3 separate regions of the Homo sapiens genome follow, and regions 1 and 3 are each reported to be linked to region 2. Evidence: microRNA targets listed by miRTarBase, many of them from high-throughput screens and not tested one by one. Region 2 holds a microRNA gene; each other region holds the end of a gene's coding sequence. Distances are from middle to middle.

Region 1 (4,000 bases), 23 Mb from region 2:
GTGGTAAAACTATGTAATGCCGTGTAATAAACAATAACTCATATTGTTATTACTTTTCCAGGACAAAACAATGTTATACATCTGTTCCCAACCTTTATGGTATAACCTTATTTTAATTTTTCATAATTACTTTTTTATTCTGTTACTGTTAGAAGAAACCATCATTTCTTCCTCTTGGGACAGAAGCATTTGCTACTAATGACAATAATAGGTGATGCTTCTCAAGGAGCTTGCTGTGTGCTAGCCATTTGCTAGGTGCATTACATGTATTCATTGGTTTTCTTAACAACTTACTGGATTTTCATAACAATCCACTTCACAGATGAGGAAATTGAGGCATGGCAATGTGCAATAACTTACTTGGGTGCTAGAGGGAATTCAGACCTCCTTCTGAGTCCTACACATCATTCTTTCTTTTCATGCCATTTAAATGTTCTGAGATAAAAATGGATATGACTTTGTGGGGTGTGAGGTCAACCCTGACTTGTCTTACTCCCTTGTTTCCCAGACTTTTATCGGACGTTTTCGCCGCATCATGGACTCCTCACAGAATGCTTACAACGAAGACACTTCAGCCCTGGTAGCCAGGCTAGACGAGATGGAGAGGGGCTTATTTCAAACAGGGCAGAAAGGACTGAATGACTTTCAGTGTTGGGAGAAGGGGCAGGCTTCTCAGATCACAGCTTCCAACCTCGTTCAGAATTACAAGAAGAGAAAATTCACTGATATGGAAGACTGAAAGCCGGAAGAACACAGAATGGCTCCTCACAGACGTATCCCTCCGTGTGTCCTTGATAGGAGCTGGTTGACCTTGTACAGAACCAGAATCCTGTCCCATTTCATGGCTTATTTCCTGTGGCCATAGAGAATTATAGGGAACTGGACATGCTGGAGGATGTGGGTGTCCCTGGCTCTGTGAGTCTTCCAGGACCGTCCCACCCTGCTGACCCACAGCCCAGGCCCTTTAACCCAAGAACCCATGGCCAAGGAGAAATCAAAGTCCTTCCTAAATAAGAATCACTGCCATATAATATATCACAGTAGAGTTGCAACTGAGATTCCTTGTGTCTGGGAGTTTGGACAGCTTCAGATGTACAGTTTCACTAGCCACAAAGCACAGGTACAAACTGGGTCATCGCCTGTTCACAAAATGCTCTCTTGATCTTATTTGCCTCATCTTCCTCATGGTTGTACAGAGGATAGCACCCCACCATGCCAGCCTGACTTGGAGATATCTCCTGCTGCCTGCCTGCAGGGAGTTACCCCAGTTTCCAAAAACAGTCGCCCAGATAAAGGAGGAAAAGGGAAAGGCAGACGAATGGCATGGCTTTTACTAAAGAAAAGATGTTGGCCTCATACTCTATACTCAGGGCTTAATGAACTGGAATCTGCATAACTCAGCAGTCAACCCAGAAGGGAAATGGTTAAACTGAGCTTGTTATTGCCTCGGAGAGCCTAAGAGCACCCGCACACTTAATTCTACTCCCTGTCTAGAAAAGCTGTCAGGGAGTCGTTTGGAATTGCAATGTAGTTATTAAGGGCTGTTAACCAGCCTGCATTACATCTGGAAGTCAGGACTTGGGTGCTGACTATGAAGGGCCCTGTTTTCAAAATCTAACATTGCAAGTGTAAATGGGCAAGAAGCCTCCGTTGTGCTTTTTTTTTCCTCTTCAGTAACTTTTGCAACATTATTGCATAGAAGATCCCTGACCATTTACTAGGAACCTGGTTAAGCAAGCACTAATCTCTTTTCCTGGAGATCAAGGATGCAACCTCAGGTTGAGAAAGAAACAGGGTTCCCTGGGCCCATTAGACTGTTTGCAGGGCATCACTGCTTCCCCCTGACACCTCACAACTAGCAAAAATTGTCTTTGTCTTTGGAAATTATAGAGGGATTTGGGTATCCAGATTGTGCAGATGCAAACTTAGGCTGTCTTGATGCAAACTTAGAACCACAGAAATGCTTTTAAAATGCCTGTTTTAAGATGGAATTGTTGTTTTTATAATTTGATTTTAGTGCTAAATAAATGATTGGCTTTGTACATGAATATGTTCTGTACAAGTGCTCTTTCACTAGTACTACAGATAATCAAAGCTATCAGAATTGTGTCTTTGATCATATTTGACGGTAATACACAAATCCATGTTTTAGCAGCTGCTCTTTTGCTTGTGTGGTACACATAAATAGGAGGTACATTCTCTGTAGGAGGGTGCTGTGTCCTAGGAAGATGAGATTTCCATTACTACCGCAGCATTTATATATAGCCAGGGCCCGAGAAACCATTCATAGAGCGAGAAAAGCATATTATTTAACTTTTGGCATCATTCTTTTCACACATAGCTTTATATTTAAAGTCAACTCTAAGTCTGCTGCCATTTTTTCCTACTTCCTAAAAAAAAGAAATTCCTCAGGGGCCATGTGTCAGGAATATGTAGGTATTCATGTCCAAAACTTAGCCCCTATTTTACATTTTGAACAGATTATATTACATGTAGCTTTTGAACTCATTTTCAATTACAGATCTGCCTTCAAGCCTGTCGGACTTCCCCTCTCCCCAGCAGCCCTCCAGTTAGTCGTTTAGATTTTGATTTGGTCCCTTCAAGAGGTTAATTTTTCAAAAAACACAACAAATGGGCTCAAATACCAAATTGCTATCAAACTCCAGGGAGTAAAGCTGTGCCCTTTCCCCTGAAGCACTCTGTTCCCACATGACTGTGGCCTTACAGACAGAAGACCTCAGTATATATAGGTTTTTCCCAGGGACAGTGTGGGCTGCCAGGAGCAGTGGGGCAAGGCTCTGTCACTGTTGATTCCTCCTGCTGTTCGTGACCTCTGGATTTGGGTGGCTCTGGGCTGTCCATGCCTCTCCATCTCCACGCAGATGGCTCCCAAATTCCTATCTCCAGCTCAGATCGCTCCCTCCAACTCCAGACTTGTATCCAATCCCCTGCTTGATGTTTCTACGTCTCCACGGCCTGCTCCTCCTCTGATGTTTCCCATCTCCATTTTTTACAACTCCATCCTTCCCTATTGCTTAGAACAAAAACGCTATGTCCCCCCCTGACCTTCCTCCTCTCACGCTCCATATCTTTTGGGTCTGCCGTCAAATCATTTGCAGCATCCGGCCACCTCCCCATCACCTGTGGTGCTGTCACTCGGGCCAGGCCCCTACCGTTTCTTTCCTGGAGTTTTGGGATCACCCCCTAACTGCCTCCCTGCATTCACCCTCCACTCCATCTTCAGACTCTTCTCACCATAGCAGCCAGAGTGCTCTTGTTAAGAAGTATATCCAATCTTGTCGATTCTCTGCTCAAGACCCTCCCATCTCAGAGAAAAAGGATAGTCAGTTATCCCAGCACACTTTGTTAAAAACTAATCTTTGGGCCCGGTGCGGTGGCTCATGCCTGTAATCCCAGCACTTCGGGAGGTCGAGGCAGGTGGATAACTTGAGGTCAGAAGTTTGAGACCAGAAGGGCCAACAGTGAAACCTGTCTCTACTGGAAATACAAAAATTAACCAGGCATGATGGTGGGCGCCTGTAATCCCAGCTACTCGGGAGGCTGAGGCAGGAAATCACTTGAACCCAGGGGACAGAGGTTGCAGTGAGCTGAGATCACACCTCTGCACTCCAGCCTTGGTGACAGAGCAAGACTCTGTCTCAAAAAAAAAAAAAAAAAGTCATCTTTACCCTGCTAATCTGATGTTGAATTTCTTTATTGCTTGCATGGCAGAAATAATTTGTTTCTTATTTTAAATAAAAAGTCCACCTTCTCCCTAAGAATTCTGAGCATCTTACAGAGCTTCTCACTAACCTCTCAGCACCTCTGAACCCGAGGTTTCTGGAATACTGTGCCTGAACTAGTGAAACCGGCATGCAGAAGCACTGAGTGACTCAAGTTCAAACAGCAGTCAGTTCCACTCTGTGTCTGTCTGTTCTGTCCCCCTCCCATCCTTCAAGAAACCCCAAGAGAGCTTTTTTTTTTTTTTTTTGAGATGGAG
Region 2 (4,358 bases):
GAACCAAAAGCAGAAGCCAGGTCTTTGGATTATCAGCTCACCAGTCAGCCAGTGAGGCTGGAACTTGATTTTTCTAGGCATACAAGTATTTTTAGTAATAGAATAATCATTTTTAGTATTAATACAATTTACGCTCCCAAACATGTCCTTTGCTAGTTGCACAGGCATAAGCTGAAAGATCTTTGATTTTCTTTGTTAGTTAGCTATAGGAAGGTTAAGAATTTATTTACTAAGGTCGTAAGAACAGAAGAAAGTTTCTTTGAAAGAGAAACTGTTTTTTTATTTCAAAGAGCTTCATGTATACTTCCCTCTCTTATTCCATGTAATTAGTAAGGGAAAATAAACTATGTCTTAGAATGTTGAGGAAAGTATTTTGATAGCTTTTAATAATTCTTGAAATACTCTTTACTCTGTCTGTAGTTTTGAGAAATTACAGAAATTCATAGTATAAGGATGAGAAGGGGCCCATTTGCCCATATTTGATAACACAGACTTGGATTGAGTGTCTGTCATGCCTGCTGGCAGTTAAGTCTCAGTGGTATTGACTGCTAGGCATTTTCTATATTTTTTGCAAGTTAGCTGGTAAAACTTGGTAAAGTTTTGTGTTTTTCAGAAGGAACCCTATTATTATTTCCATTTTAAACATATTTCAATATTGTCTCATTGTAATAGTTCCATTTATGTGACATCTGAGGAATTAAATCATACTTCCAGATGGTTTGGTCTAATGTATACAGTTTAGGAAAGTTTATTCTTTTTTATTTTATTTTATTTTTTTAAATTTCTTTTAGAAACTGGGTTTTGCTCTGTTGCCCAGGCTGATCTTAAACTCCTGGCCTCAGATGTGGAGACCCAGCTGGGACTACAGGCATGAGCCACCACGCTCCGTAGAAAGTTTGTTCTTTTTCAGTTCTGTCATTGAAATTCTCTAAGTGATTGGATTTTTAAACCCCTTCCCCTTTTCATGAAATTAAACATCAAATAAATAAAACTACATTATATAATTATTTAGTCAGAAATGACTGTTGCCCTCTCTTTTTTTTTTTTTTTTTTTTTTTTTTTTGAGACGGAGTCTCGCTCTGTCGCCTAGGCTGGAGTGCAGTGGTGCGATCTCGGCTCACTGCAATCTCCGCCTCCTGGGTTCAAGCAATCATCCTGCCTCAGCCTCCCCAGTACCTGGGATTACAGGTGCTTATTACCACACTCGGCGAATTTTTTGTGTTTTTAGTAGAGACGGGGTTTCACCATGTTAGCCAGCATGGTCTCGATCTCCTAAACTTCGTGATCCGCCCGCCTCAGCCTCCCAAAGTGCTGGATTACAGGTGTGAGCCACCTCGCCTGCCCTCTTTTTTTTTTTTTATTTTGAGATTAAAACTAATTCTTTTAAAGTCACTACTCAGCTGAAATTTGGCCTGATTATAAATGTTGATAATAATTTCTTCCTGGCTCAACAAAGTTGTTGAGCTTCCTTCTGTGCACACATTGAAAGAAAACCAGAAATTGTACAGTCGTGATATGAATTAGAGAAGGAACAGGTGGAAAAGGATGGCAACACACAGAGTCCGGGGGACACACGGCCTTAAGATGAAGTGAACGAGTAGACACTGAATAGGATCCACGTAAATGAACGGCCATTTCAAATCATTCACATCCCAAACGGAGGTTCATCTGTCTTCTGGTTGGTGAATTATATTTATTAGGATCTTATTTTTAGCATTTCATTACAAGTAATAGGTTTGGGTACCTTATTTTTATTGTTTTTACTCATCAGTTATGAATAAGGCATACCTTAGAAACTTGGGTTAAATTTTTTCAAGTTATACCAGTCAACTTGGTTTAAATACAACTGTACTAACTTGCTTTATCATGTTTCCTGTTTAATTGGATGAGAATTACATGCACTTATTCAGTTGTTCTTTGTGTTTATAGGAAAAACTCTGTTCTCAGCTACCTCATTATGTAGTATTGTGCTTGATCCCCTGCCAATTGAGAAGAATTCAACACATTCTGTTCTTTAACAAAAGCTTGGAAGCAGGCAGTCAGAGGCCTTGAGGAATACAATTCTCTAAGGCCTGTTTTCCATTTTACTACTTAAAAAAAAAAAAAAAAGAAAAGAAAAAAAAGCACTTACAACCAGGAGGAATAATAATTCTCCTAGAGTTGCTGCAAACTGATTACTTGAAACTCAACTTGAACTTTAAAGAGTCTTTAAAAGGCTGTTTTCATAATGCAGAAAAGTAGTCTATTTAAACGCCACTGCTGTGTAAAACAGGGGGCTCGATTTCCATTCTTGTTAGCATCAGACAAGAAAATGTGTCTATCTGTCATCTGACCCAGTATTTGGGATTTGGGTGCTTGAGGATACTATTTTTTTCATTTCTTATAAGGTGCTATTGTTTCCCAGAAATCTTTAATTTTGATGAAAATCTACTCATTGCTAAGATCCTCCTCACTTAAAGTGTTTCCTCAGTGCAGAGTTGAGGTTGGCAGAACTATATAGAGTTGGATGATACTGAAAATCATGAATGATGTGATTTGTTCCATGTATCTGTGGAACATCCCTCACCTTCCTCCGGTATGCGCCTTCTGCACTCCACACGTGGTCGCCTCCATCCTCCCTAGTGTCTGTCAGCTTGCCTGGTCACCAAGTCAGGAGGAAGAAGATGAGGAGGCTCACCAGTTGTAGGCAAGACTCTTCCTCTCGGGAGATCTTGTAATAATGGCCCAGTTTCAGGGCACAGTTGTACACATTCTACTTAAATGGAGGAGTTCAGTGATGCCGTGGCCAAAAGAGTTATGCCCATTTCTAAAAGCCTGGCATATTTGGTATAACTTAAGCACCAGGTAAAATCTGGTGCTTAAGTTGTACCAAGTATAGCCAAGTTTAACTGTCGTTGTGTATTAATAAGATTTAATTTTTATGCTTGTGCTTTTCAGAGTAAAGGGCTTGCTTTCAATAGTAGAATGACAAAGCTTCTCCTCCAATGACAATCTGTTAGCACCCTGTTGACTTAGCTCAGGACATGAGACTGACTTAGCTCAGGACATGAGACATTTCCTGGAAGTGATTTCCATGAGAACAAAGGCTTATTCCTTTAACTTAAACCCCAAACTTTGTTATTTTAATTATTTTCAGGCAATCATCTTTATATACTTTCCTTACAAACCCAGTGGTTGAGAGCATAGGCCTTGGTGGCAGGTGCATCTGGGCTTGGGGGCTTCTGCCACACTTACTACTCTGTGACTTGGGAAGCTCTTAAGGCTCCCAAGGCTCCGTTTCTTATGTGGAAGAAGAATAGCAGGAGGACTCACCTCTGCGGGTTGTTGTGAGGATTAACTGGGTGATGACTGTAAGCAGCTGGGAGAGTGCCTTGTGTGCAGTGACCACTGTTGCTGCCACCATGATTATGTCACCTCTCAACATGGGGTGGTGGGAGGCCCTGTGGATGAGGCCAAGGCTGCCTGCACTGAGTGTCCCAGGCCTTATAGCTTTCCACATTCTCACGTCTGCTGCCACATGATATACAAGTAAATGTATTAGAAGTTGGTGTTCATAAAATACTTTTTTTTTTTTTTTTTTTTGAGATGGAGTCTCGCTCCGTCACCCAGGCTGGAGTGCAGTGGCGCCATCTCCCAGGCTCAAGGGATCCTCCTGCCTCGGCCTGCCAAGTAGCTGGGACTACAAGTGCACACCAGTATGCCCAGCTAATTTTTTGTATTTTTAGAACAGGTGTGGTTTCACCATATTGCCCAGGCTGGTCTCGAGCTCCTGAGCTCAGGCAATCCGCCTGCCTCAACCTCCCAAAGTGCTGGGATTACAGGTGTGAGCATCCAGCCAGAAAATGATTTGCTTTCTAGACCCATATCACCTCTCTCCATCTACATCTCTAGTATTTAAATTCAACACAATTCTAGATAGCTGAAACAGCCCAAAATATGTGTTTAGAATACTTAGAGTTTGTTATAAATAACCCTCTGTTTAGAATTTGCCCAGTGAAATTCTCTAATAATACTTAAAACTCTTTACTAAAGTTGAATTTTCCTTTTTTTTCATTGAAATAGCAAAGGTAGTAATCTGTATTGGTCAAAGAAACGAGATAATTCCTAGATCTCTGTTTTAGACCAGTAGACCTAACTGTGCTTTCTTAACTTGGATGTTACATGAAACTTAAAAACAAACAAATATGTGTTACAAGTACTTGTGTGTACGTGCATGTGTGTTTGTGCATGTGTCTGTGTGTGTGGAACTTTTGTACCTTTGCATAAAGAAGGTTATTTAACAAAGTGGTACAAACAGTGAACTACTTAATCCTTCTATGGTATCATACACTTCTTTTCCTGGTTAGGTTATGAGACTG
Region 3 (4,358 bases), not on the chromosome of region 2:
TATCATGGTACTGTGAAATAGAACTTTCTACCATAATGGAAATGTTCTATATCTATGCTGTCCCCTAGAGTAGTCGTGAGCCATGTTGCTGTTGAGTGCTTGAAATGTGGCTAGTGTGACTGAGGAACTGGATTTTTTTATTTTATTTCAATAAATCTTAAATAACCAGTGTGTGGCTCTTGTCTACTCTGTTGGACAGTGCAGATCCACAATGACGATGATCATATGCACCCTAATATTTAGCTTCTAATAAAATAAGATCATAAAATACTTCCTAAATACAAATGATTAATGTATATTTATTTGTGTATGTATATGTATTACATGGTGGGATAGGATTTAAATATTCAATAATCACATATAAATATAGCTTTAAAAATGAAATATTGGCAAGGATTAAAATTTAAAAGCCGTTTTTTAATACATTTATAGGTGACATGAACAGGTTGATAATGTGCATAAATGAATAACTGTTTTGAAAAGAAAAATTATGCAAATTTGTTATTCAGTTTTGAATATTGGTAAAGTGGTAGTTCAGATTATCTTTTGGAAGTAGTTCTGTTTGAACTTTAAAGTACTTTATAGCATAATTTTGCAAAGGTTTTTTTCTTAATCGCTTAGAATCAAAATATAATAAACATTCTTATCTGTTGCTTATGTATGCCAAATATAATTTAAAATGCTCATTTTTTTCTGTAAAAAATATATTAAAGTCAAGTATTTTTACTGTGGCTCTCATTATATAAATAATTAGTATAAGTATCTCAATTTTTCTGGTTTTGTTCCTTTCTAGCTGCATAGATGAATGGTTTGAAGTAAATAGATCTTGCCCTGAGCACCCTTCAGATTAAGCGTCAGCTTCCTGTTTTATAGGTAATTTTTTTTGTAATTACTTTTTAAAGCGTTAGCCCAAATTATACATTCTAAACTATAATTTTTATTTATTCATTTACTCATTGAGGTGCATGAGTGTGTATGTGTATGTTTCAGACACTTAGGCTACTGCATAGAAAACTTACATTAAAAATATTGTATAATTCTAATTGTTGGCTGGGTATGCTGGCTCGCGCCTGTAATCCCAGCACTTTGGGAGGCCTCAGGCAGGTGGATCACTTGAGGCCAAAAGTTCAAGACCAGCCTGGCCAACATGGTGAAACTCTGTCTCTACTAAAAATACAAAAATTAGCCAGGCTTGGTGGTGCACACCTGTAATCCGAGCTACTCGGGAGGCTGAGGTACAAGAATCACTTGAGGCTGGGCATGGTGGCTCACACCTGTAATCCCAGCACTTTGGGAAGCCGAGGCGGGCGGGTCACGAGGTCAGGAGATTGAGACCATCCCTGGCTAACACGGTGAAACCCCGTCTCTACTGAAAATACAAAAAAAAATTAGCCAGGCCTGGTGGCGGGTGCCTGTAGTCCCAGCTGCTTGGGAGGCTGAGGCAGGAGAATGGTGTGAACCCAGGAGGTGGAGTTGGCGGTGAGCTGAGATCGTGCCACTGCACTCTAGCCTGGGCGACAGAGCGAGTCTCCTTCTCAAAAAAAACAAAAAACAAAAGAGAATCACTTGAACCCAGGAAGTGGAGGTTGCAGTGAGCCGAGATCATGCCACTGCACTCCAGCCTGGGTGACAGAGCAAGACTGTCTCAAAAACAACCAAACCAAAAAATAATAATTCTAATCATTTAGTATTATCATGTGCCAGGTGTTGTTGTAAGCATTTTACATCTATTAGTAACTTGTCTAATTGTTACAATAACCGTTTTGAGCTCAGTACCATTACTGTTCCTATTACGCAGATGAAGAAATTAAGTATAGAGAGGTTAAGAAACTTGACTTTTCAAGTTCAGATAACTAGTTTGTTGGTGGGGATGAAATTTGAACCCAGGTATTCTGGTTCCAAAGACTGTTCTTAGCAATTTTGCTCTTTTTAGGTAGGAACATTTTCTTCAAACAGTCGCATCATAAATTTATTCATTCAATTTAATCATTCACTTTTATATCTTTAGCATGTAATACAGTGCCTGTCTATATAGTAGGCAAAAAATAAAGTTGCATTTTACGACTGAAAAAAAAACTAGTTTTGTTCTACTGATTTAAGTTTTTCATGGTTCTGCATTATCTGAAAATGTTTAGTGAATTGAATGCTGACCTCAATTGGGTATTTTCATAGGGCTTTTTTTTTTCACATTTCACAAGTGCATTAAATTGACATCATTTAGCTTTGAAAAAATAAAGGTTAACTTAATTGCTATCTTCAAATATATGAAAAGCTTTTATGAAAAGACTTGGAGAGATGATATAAAGCATTGGATTGTTATATCAAGGCAGAGCATTTTAGCTAATCCTAGAATTGTTTCAGGAGTGAGAGTCTCTTTGTTCAGGGACTCAAGACAGTAACAGCCGGCTTTTCTAGGAGGCTGAGACTGATGGCAAGGAACTAGACCAGATGACGTCCAGAGGTCTAGTCCTGTGTGGTACCATTTCCTTTTATTTCAATAACTTCTCTTAAATTTGAGAATAAAAGTGTTGAGGTAATAAACACCCTCAAGGAATTCTGTTGCTGTATTGGTGGAAGATGATTTAAGAGTAGCAGATTAGAATATTGACAGAGAAGATTTGAGATAATAGCAGCAATAGCACCTGAAATGAGAACTGCAGTTGAGTGTCATAAGACTACGCATGTGCATGTGAAATGTGGAAGCCTTGGTAGACTGCAGAGTACTAAAAGACTGCCAATTTTAACCTTTCCTGTGAACTTACTTAGATCATGCCTTGACACATTTAAAATATGAATTGAGGCTGAACACTAATTGCTTGAGATAAGGAGTTTGAGGCTGCAGTGAGCTATGAACACACCAGTGCACTCCTGCCTGGGTGACTTAGCAAGTCCCTGTCTAAATAAATAAATAAATAAAATGTGAATGGAAGTAAGAATGCTAGGTAAGAGAAGTATAGTGGTGGAGTGGTATTTTGAATATATGTGCACATATGTTTTTATTTCACCATAGAAAAGGTTTGGAATGCCTTCATTGTCACCTTATGTTTGAGACAAAACGAAACTGTGGCTAAAATTATAGAAGCATTTTAAGGGAAGTACTGAAACTGATGCTAACAAAATGAAATTTTTGTCTTAGTATTTTACATGCCAAAGTAATACATCTAAATCCTTCATCTATAGATAAAATTTGTCTTTTTAGTCTTTCTTAGTGCATTTTGGGCTGCTATAACAAAATACCTTAGATGAGTAATTTATACATGACAGAAATTTAGTGCTCACAGTTCTGGAAGCTGGGAAGTCTAAGATCAAGGTTCCAGCCAGTAGATCTGGTGTCTGATGAGGGCTCATTGCTCATTTATGGCACCTTCTGTGTGTCCTCACGTGGTGGGATAACAGACTCCCTCAAGCTTCTATAAGGATACTAACTGCATTCATGTGGTCAGAGCCCTCATCACCTAATCATGTCCCAAAGGCCCCACCTCTTAATACTATAGCACTGCAGATTAGGTTTTAACATAGCAATTTTGGGAGTACACAAACATTTAGACCATAGAGCTGATAAGCTTTTTTTTTTTTTTTTTTTTTTTTTGGTGAGGTGGAATTATATTGTATAAATTTTTTTTCTTTCATCAGCTAAATTTTTCCTTTAGTGTCACAGTGAGCTTATGGGATATGTGGAGCATACATCTCATCTCATAGCTGAAATGCATATGTCTGTTGGTCTTCAACAACATTTCCATTTTCTTATGTTACATATGAGTGTTATATTTGCTTATTTGTTTGTTTTCGAATATAGAACCTGAATTTGAAACTAGCCTACTACATGGGCAGGGTGAACTCTGTTAATCAGGTGTCTACAGAAATCTGAACCAATGGAGTCTGCTTCTGTGGGTCTTGAAGAGTCATTTTTAAGAGTTTATAGACATGGAATATCTTGACTTGTACATTTTTGCTTCTGTCCTGACTGTTCTTATTTATCAAGTGATAAATTCTTGTATACCTTTTAATAGTCCTAGATTAAAGGTATATGGGTTTGAGGAGGATTCAGTGTTGTTAAAACATTTTGTAAGGCACTGTGTAGCCATAAAGCTCAACGTTTCTGATATCCTTCAGCATAAGAATTTAATAATCAACCCAAAATAGAGAGACATGAATATTTGTGGTCTTGATTAGTTAGAAAATTGCTGTACTTATTTTGGGGTTTTTAGTTATTTGGGAGAAATATTTTAAATCTCCGTGTGTGTGCATTCTTTACTTGCGTGTAGTCCTTATTGTGAAAGGGGGATGACTTTGTTATGTATTTTTTGTGACTAAACTTTAATTGATCCTTCTGTTTCTTAATCTGTTCTTCTCCAGAT

What was found. The annotated mature microRNA hsa-miR-4720-5p reads CCUGGCAUAUUUGGUAUAACUU and lies in region 2 at 2,814-2,835, shown strand. An mRNA with a match to its seed (bases 2 to 7 or 8) in the 3' UTR can be bound and repressed. Matches are read on the target gene's strand: a 7mer-m8 pairs with bases 2 to 8, a 7mer-A1 pairs with bases 2 to 7 and ends in A, and an 8mer does both.
Region 1: the mRNA of GINS3 is a reported target of hsa-miR-4720-5p. Seed matches in the 3' UTR shown: 7mer-m8 at 1,213-1,219.
Region 3: miRTarBase lists ZNRF2 as a target of hsa-miR-4720-5p. The part of its 3' UTR that is shown has no 7-base or 8-base seed match.

The regions. Positions count from the first base shown.
Region 1 is chr16:58,403,991-58,407,990 of GRCh38, forward strand. GINS3 (GINS complex subunit 3) reads left to right here. Exons shown (of 3, transcript NM_022770.4): 3 at 509-2,157. The coding sequence ends at 739. Among named protein-coding and RNA genes, the nearest start is that of GINS3, 14 kb to the left of the region's middle.
Region 2 is chr16:81,382,208-81,386,565 of GRCh38, forward strand. MIR4720 (microRNA 4720) reads left to right here and starts at 2,811; the gene lies at 2,811-2,886. It overlaps GAN (gigaxonin), which reads left to right. Exons shown (of 11, transcript NM_022041.4): 11 at 1-4,358.
Region 3 is chr7:30,361,584-30,365,941 of GRCh38, forward strand. ZNRF2 (zinc and ring finger 2) reads left to right here. Exons shown (of 5, transcript NM_147128.4): 4 at 794-873. The coding sequence ends at 851. Among named protein-coding and RNA genes, the nearest start is that of LINC01176, 27 kb to the right of the region's middle.